Homo sapiens: one gene and its partner. The protein of the gene in region 1 purifies or fractionates together with the protein of each later gene. This does not show direct contact. Each region holds a gene or a part of one and is shown on either strand. Other genes may lie near its edges.

Evidence for each region.
Region 2: the proteins of SLC46A1 (region 1) and MON2 purify together in Homo sapiens (affinity purification with mass spectrometry; one large-scale study listed by BioGRID and IntAct). This does not show direct contact.

What each region holds. Positions count from the first base shown.
Region 1 is NC_000017.11:28,399,645-28,403,297, reverse strand, and holds part of SLC46A1 (proton-coupled folate transporter), read left to right. Parts: exon of another isoform or gene 1-976; coding exon 977-1,060; exon of another isoform or gene 1,061-2,531; coding exon 2,532-2,688; exon of another isoform or gene 2,689-3,584; coding exon 3,585-3,642; coding exon of another isoform or gene 3,643-3,653.
Region 2 is NC_000012.12:62,469,826-62,473,478, reverse strand, and holds part of MON2 (protein MON2 homolog), read right to left. Parts: intron 2,779-3,653; exon of another isoform or gene 2,701-2,778; intron 1-2,700. UniProt on the Homo sapiens protein: Plays a role in regulating membrane trafficking of cargo proteins. Together with ATP9A and DOP1B, regulates SNX3 retromer-mediated endosomal sorting of WLS away from lysosomal degradation.

The DNA.
Region 1 (3,653 bases):
ATAGATGTTACCTTTTTACCTCATGTATTGGTTCCCTGAGATTGCTGTAATGACATACCACAAACTTGGGGGCTTAACACAACAGAAACATATTCTCTCACAGTTCTGGAGGCCAGAAGTCCAAAGTCAGTACCACCGGGCTGAATGGAAGCAGTCAGCAGGCAGTGCTCCCTTGCAAGCCTCCAGGAGAGAACGTGTTTCTCATTTCTTCCAGCTTCTGGGGCTGCTGGCATTCCTTGGCTTGGGGCGGCCATCACCAGTCTCTGCCTCTGTGCTCACATTGACTCTCCTCCTCTTTGTGCCTTCTCAATTCTGTCGGTGCCAAATCTCCGTCTGCTTTCCTCTTATAAAGATATGTGTGACGGCATTTAGGGCCCAACCTAATCCAGGATAACTCTGCTCTCTCAGGAGGCTTAACTGCACACCTGCATAGACTCATTTTCCAAATAAGGTAGTATTTACAGGTTCCAGGGCTATGAATCTGATGCCATTGGGCACCATTATTCAGCCTCCTATGCCTCAGAACCATCCTGTGATGAAGGCCTTATTATCTTCCTCATACAGGGAGTCAGGATCAGAGAGGGTAAGTACCCCAGGCCACACAGATAATATGTAATGGCATCAGGTTTTGAACTCAGGGCTGACTCCAAAGCCCATGCTTGTTTTCTGTGCCCTGCCATATCCCTACTAAGTGCCAAGTGGGTGGGTGATGCCTGCTGTGACCACAAGAGGTTCAGACAAGAAAGCAATCAATGGGAATTAGCATTCATTCATGAGAGCTAGCAGGTGGCCAAGCCCAGACAAGGGCAGTCTCCATTCCTCCTTGACTACTGTCTTCCCACCCTCACCATCAAGGAAGTTCTTCCTGGGTCTAACCTAAGCCCCACGTGGGGTATGGATAGGAGCTCTGCTGCCTTTCCCTTGGACGCCCCTCTCCCCAGCCCCATTTTCCTGATGAGTGTTTGTTTCTCCACAGGATATGGGTTGCTTTTCCTGTCATTAGTCATCACACCTGTCATCCGGGCTAAACTCTCCAAGCTGGTGAGAGAGACAGAGCAGGGTGAGTGTCAGAACCCACCTGTGTCTGGTTCCTCATGTCCAGTGCTGCCCGAAACGGGCTGATGGGCAGCCATGGCTGGGGGAACAGCTTGCCTTCCCCCCTCTCACCCTGGAGAAGTAAGTGGCCAAAACAAACACATTTCTGTGAAATTGCCCACAATGGGCAGAGGATCATGCCACCTTGGATTTTCAAACCGCAGAGTTGGGATTTGCAGTCAGCAGAGCACAATTATGTTCTTTCTAGATAACCAGAGCAGAGGATTTACTCTCTGCAGACCTCAGCTTTTCCGTCTGTAAGATGGGTGTGGTGATGCCAGAGTTCCCTGTTTCTCTGGGGTCAGCGTGTACAAGCCCAGAAGTGAACAACCTTGTGACATGGGTTTCATTTTCCACAGTTGACAGATAAAGAAACAGAGACCCAGGGGGTTACATTGGCTCACCCAAGGTTACTCAGTAAATGGTGGAGCTAGGATGCAAACCTACGTCTGTGTTTAAAAGCAGCTGGTCTCAGGATCTGGGTTTTAGTCCGAGCCCTGCCACAGGCCTGTTTCTTCATCTGTGATGTGGGTGGTTTGCTTTTGATGACATCACAGACCCCTCTAGATGTGACAGAATTTAATCTCAACTTCTGTTGGGTTGTTGCACATTTTGTAAACTGTGGGTTCTCCTGGTATATCTATAAAGAACAGCTTCTCCAGCCTCTGGGTCTTTATGCCCCAGTCTGGAAACATTCATCTTTTTCCATCTGTCCTGGAATGAGGATCTGATGATGACAGAGACTCTGGTGCCATACAGAGCCCACTGTGGGTTCTGGTGTCCCCAGAATCCATGTGTCTTCATTCATTCACCTAAACTTTTTTTCCCAGCACTTTCTCTGTGCCCAGAGATGTCAAGAGAAACAGGAGAAAAGAACAGCCCTTACTAACTAGCTACTTCCAGGGGACCAGGCCCAGTGATGGGTGATTTCCATGTGAACTTAATGTTGCTCACAATCTAGGAAATAGGTATTATCCTTATTTAGCAGAAGGAGGAACAGGAACCCAAAGGATAAGAAGCTATTCAGTGGTGACACCGCTATGAATATTGGAACTGATCAGACCAGCAGTTAATCCCAAACAGGAGATGATTCCAAAGAGGATAAACCAGAAAAAAGCCATTTCCATCAAGCTTTCATCAGACAATATCACATGTACTTTTTTTTTCTTTTATGTGCTGGGTTCTGTCAGATCACATGTACTTTTAATGTGGATTTAATAGCAGCCATTTGTTTAGTAGCCCCTCTGTGCCAGCTACTGTCCACATATGACCTTACTGAATCCTTGTCACAGTACATGATGTAGCAGGATTTACTGGTGAGGAAGGGGAGACATAGGTTAAGTGACTACTCCCGGTCACACAGCTGTGAGGTGGTGGTGCCAGAGTTGGAATATGGCCCTTTCGGACTCCAGAGTATGGTATTTATTTCTTCACAGGTGCTCTCTTTTCTGCTGTGGCCTGTGTGAATAGCCTGGCCATGCTGACGGCCTCCGGCATCTTCAACTCACTCTACCCAGCCACTCTGAACTTTATGAAGGGGTTCCCCTTCCTCCTGGGAGCTGGCCTCCTGCTCATCCCGGCTGTTCTGATTGGGTAATGCAGGGCCCTGAACCCATGCTCATAATGGAGCCCTTTCTCTTAAAAGTTTCCTCTTCTCCTCCCAACCAGAAATGGCAGCTTCATTCCTGGAATCCTTACCCTCTGGGTGTCTTGTCCCAGGTTGCCCCTCTCCTTGCAGATGGCTGCCTAATCCTCCAGGAGCCATTTTCCAAGGGCGAGATGGCGAGCTAGGTGGAGGAAGGATCAGGCTAACATTGCTGCTTGGCAAGGCTGTGTTCTCTCTCCCAGTTCCCCTATTTCCCTCCATTCCCATTTTATAGATGGAACTATGGCAGCAGAACTGTGTTAAAGGGAAGGCCAGGAAGCTTTGTCAGCTAGTTGTGGCTGGGCCACAGGCTAGCTTGACCCGCTGACTTTTTCCTGTATGATATTAAGAATTATATTTCATGGCCGGGCGTGGAGGCTCTTGCCTGTAATCCCGATCCTGTGGGAGGCTGAGGCAGGAGGACCACTTGAGCCCGGGAATTCAAGATCAGCCTGGGCAACATAGCAAGACCTTGTCTGTATAAAAAATTTAAAAAATCACCCAGGCATGGTGGTATGCACTGGTAGTCCCAGCTACTAAGGAGGCTGAGGCAGGAGGATCACTTGAGCCCAGGAGTTCAAGGGTACAGTGAGCTATGATTATGTCACTGCCCTCCAGCCTGGACAACAGAGCAAGACCCTGTCTCTTAAAAAAAAAAAAGTTATTTTCCAGAGCCATGTCCCTGGATATTGTCCTCCAGCTCTCAGCTTCTCAGCTTGGGGAAGGAGGAGGTTCAGGAGAGCTACCTGGACCAGCCCACCCCAGTAAATCCTGTGTCACTTCTCCAGACAGGCCTTGAGGGTTCCCCACATGAAATCCAAACTCTCTCTCTGGTCTCTCACAGGATGCTGGAAAAGGCTGATCCTCACCTCGAGTTCCAGCAGTTTCCCCAGAGCCCCTGATCTGCCTGGAC
Region 2 (3,653 bases), on another chromosome or scaffold:
AACCAATAGTAACAAATAATGAAGCAAGGTAAACAAATGGGAACAATAACAAAAACAAGAAAGTTGTAAAGGCATGTGCAGCATGATATAATGGAAAATGGGAGAGGAGTTAGAGATGGACTCACATGGACTCACATACCATTTCCACCATTTCCACCATTTTCCAGCTTTACTACCTTATGCAAATTACTAAACCTGTCTATACCAGTTTCCTCATCTGTAAAATGAAATATTTAATATGGCATGTTGCATTAGAGTCTAAGGATGCAAAGTTCCAAGCCTAGTGGGAAGGCAACATTTTATTCAACCTTGAGTTAACTTCATGAGACTAAAGGCAATTTCTCAATTATTTCTGTGTTCCTGCTGTGCTTTTTTAGGAGACTCATAAATTTCTGTTAAATTATAACAGTAACAGCAAAACCTTCTACTTCATACATGGTTGAAAATGTTCAGCTATGCTTACATAAAGGAAAAAAGAAAAATAAATCAAATTTTGAAATATGTCTTCCTTTTTGGCTTATAAGTTAGAGAATATGTCTTTTATTTTTTCTGTCACCAAAGCACAGGTAATCATTTATTTCAGTTTATAGCTTTCAATATATAAAGCATGAATATATTATATTACGCTTATGGGAGAAAGAACACAATGTCAAGAGGAAGAAACCACATTATAAAATACTAAACCAAAACAGATCCCAAGTAAGCTCGTAAAGATTATCCAGCCCTCATCTTCAATGTCATAAGGTCGTGCAAATGAGGTGTTAACCCAACCAGGAGAGCCAATGACATTAGTCACAGTCCCTAAATATCTGATTAAATGGCAAATCCTGTCACAGTAAGTAGAAGGCATCTCTTTCACTAGGGGTCTCCCTAAGCCAGTTAACAAAGCAAAACACCTGGATACTGAGGAACTCTATCACAAGAAACCTTTGCTTTTCTCTGCCAGCCAATTTCTATTAGGCCTGAATGGGTAACAGGAAACTTAAACTACATAGCCTAGGAAGACTACTTGCACTTTTAAATTATTTATACCCTTACTGATTCTGCATCATTTAAAAAGAGAGAAAAGGAATCTATCCAATTCCCTAATTCTGACCACCTAAACTCAAATGAACTTCTTTCCCTTTACTCTTCTACCACCCATTCCCTGGACTTCATCATCCTCTAGTGCTGGGCAATCTGAAATGCAATATTCCCACCATTGTCCCAACTCCTATCCTTCTAGCTCTCTCACTCCCCAACCCCACTGCTCTTTGATGAAATAGGTGCTGCTAGCCTTTAACCTTCCCATCATCATCCAGTCAATCCAAACTATTGGCTTTCCTTCTTTGGGAATCCAACCTAGCTCTCACAATCCACCATTATTTCAACCACTCTTCCTGCTAAGACTCTTAAGTGTTCCAAGACAATTTCTCCTCCACTTCTCCAAAGTGATCCACTGCTCTCCTCAAACTTGCCACCCCCTACTTCTTTTATCACTTAATTATTCCTACTAACAAGCTTGTTTCTTATCTTCGCAAGAAAGCAGAGGCCACAGACCAAACTGCCCACAACTTGTCGCTCCCTTCTGTCAAATTTGTCACATTCAAACCCGGTTTTTCCTTTGTCCTTCCTCTGTCAGAAGGTAATGTGTCCTTTCTCAGATTGAAATCCTGTTCATATACTTATGCCACTGAAACTTCAGTTTTCTCAAGGACCTTCCTCTAACGAGTTTTACCTTTCTCTCCTGTATCTTTAACCTCAGTCTGCCCAGCAGCCTTTTTCTTTAATGTTGTTTCCCACAGTTCCTTTTCCAGTCCTGATATTCTCACTCTATACACACACTCTTCCTGGCCCATTTCATCCAATTCTATGGTTTCAAATATTATTTATAAACTGATACTCCTAAATTTGAAATTCCAGACTTCCCTCTTAAGTGCCAAACCATCATTTTCAAACACCTACTGGTCAGTTCCACTTGGATGTCACACATAAATCTTAATATAATGACTACTCTGCTGGGTGTGGTGGCTCACGCCTGCTATCTCAGTACTTTGGGAGGCCGAGGCGGGCAGATCACCTTAGGTCAGGAGTTCGAGACTAGGCTGGCCAACATGGTGAAACCCCGTCTCTATTAAAAATACAAAAAATTAGCCAGGTGTGGTGGCACGCGCCTGTGATCCCAGGTACTCAGGAGGCTGAGGCGGGAAAATCACTTGAACCTGGGAGGCGGAGGTTGCAGTGAGCCGAGATTGTGCCACTGTACTCCAGCCTGGCAACAGAGACTCCGTCTCAAACAATATACACACATGACTACTCATTTTCCCCCAAAACATTTCCTCCTCTTTTATTTCTTCTCTTAGTGATCCACCTAGTTTCCCAAGCCAGAAACCTGGGAGGCATCACACATTTCTCTCTCTCCATTATATAAAAGATTACCATGCCTTGGTAATTTTTACCTTTTCAATCTATACGCTCTTTCACTACTGTCTAACTCAATGCAAGCAACCTTCTGTCTATGTCCACTACTGCTTCAAAACAGAGAATCATCATTTTTTAAACTTTGCTCTCTTTGCTTCAGTCTCAATACCCTCTAATTCTTCCTACCAACTGTCAAGGCAATGTTACTAAATATCAATTTGATCATATTACTCTCTTTCAAAAAGCTCTAATGGCTCCAATCATCTTCAGTATAAAATTTATTTTACATGGAATACTAACAACGTGTGCTATTTCCTCTGCTAGGAATGACTCCCCTCCTCCAACTTCCAGGCTCAGTTAGATACCCCTCATCTGTACCTGCAAATAGGAAATAATAAGAAAGTTTTTATTCATGAAATACATAAACATAAAGCTTCAGAGTTGTCTTCCTCTAAAGGCCACTGAATATTAATCACATAGAAGTGATCATGGAAGGCTTCAAAGTAATTTTTAAAACAAAGGAAAAAATTTCATACAATATTCCCAAATTAGCTAGTACAGTTGTACTAAAAAAAGTTATACTGCTAAAACATGAAGATTTATGTATAACAACTAAGAAAAATAGAAAAAAAGAGAAAGAGGTTATTATAAAATGACAGAATAAAGCCATAGCCACTACAACAACAATTTAATATACAAAGGATAGAGTTATAAATGAAAACAGTAAGGTAGGAAAAACCATGTAGAAGTCCAAAGACAGTAAGTAAATATCAGTAAATAAAGCACTATTCTTTATCAATACTCTTTTATTGGTTTTTCTAACAGATTTGAAATCTTTAAATCCAGCTTATTATTAATTTTAAAAAAGAATTACATGGGCAGCCTGGGATACGCCTATAATCCTAGCACTTTGGGAGTAGGAGGTGGACAGATTGCCTAATCGCAGGAGTTGGAGACAAGCCTCGGCAACATGGTGAGACCCTGTCTCTACAAAAAAAATACAAAAATCAGCTGCGTGTGGTGGCATGCACCTGTAGTCCCAGCTACTCAGGGGGTTGAGGTGGGAGAATCACTTGAACCCAGGATGTCAACGCTGCAGTGAGCCAAGATCCTGCCACTGCACTTCCAGCCTAGGTGAAAGAGATCCTGTCTCAAATAAATAAATAAATAAATAAATAAATAAATAAATAAATAAAATAATAGTCAAGCACTATGGCCATAAAAGACAGAAATGACTAAAAATTTGAAATAAA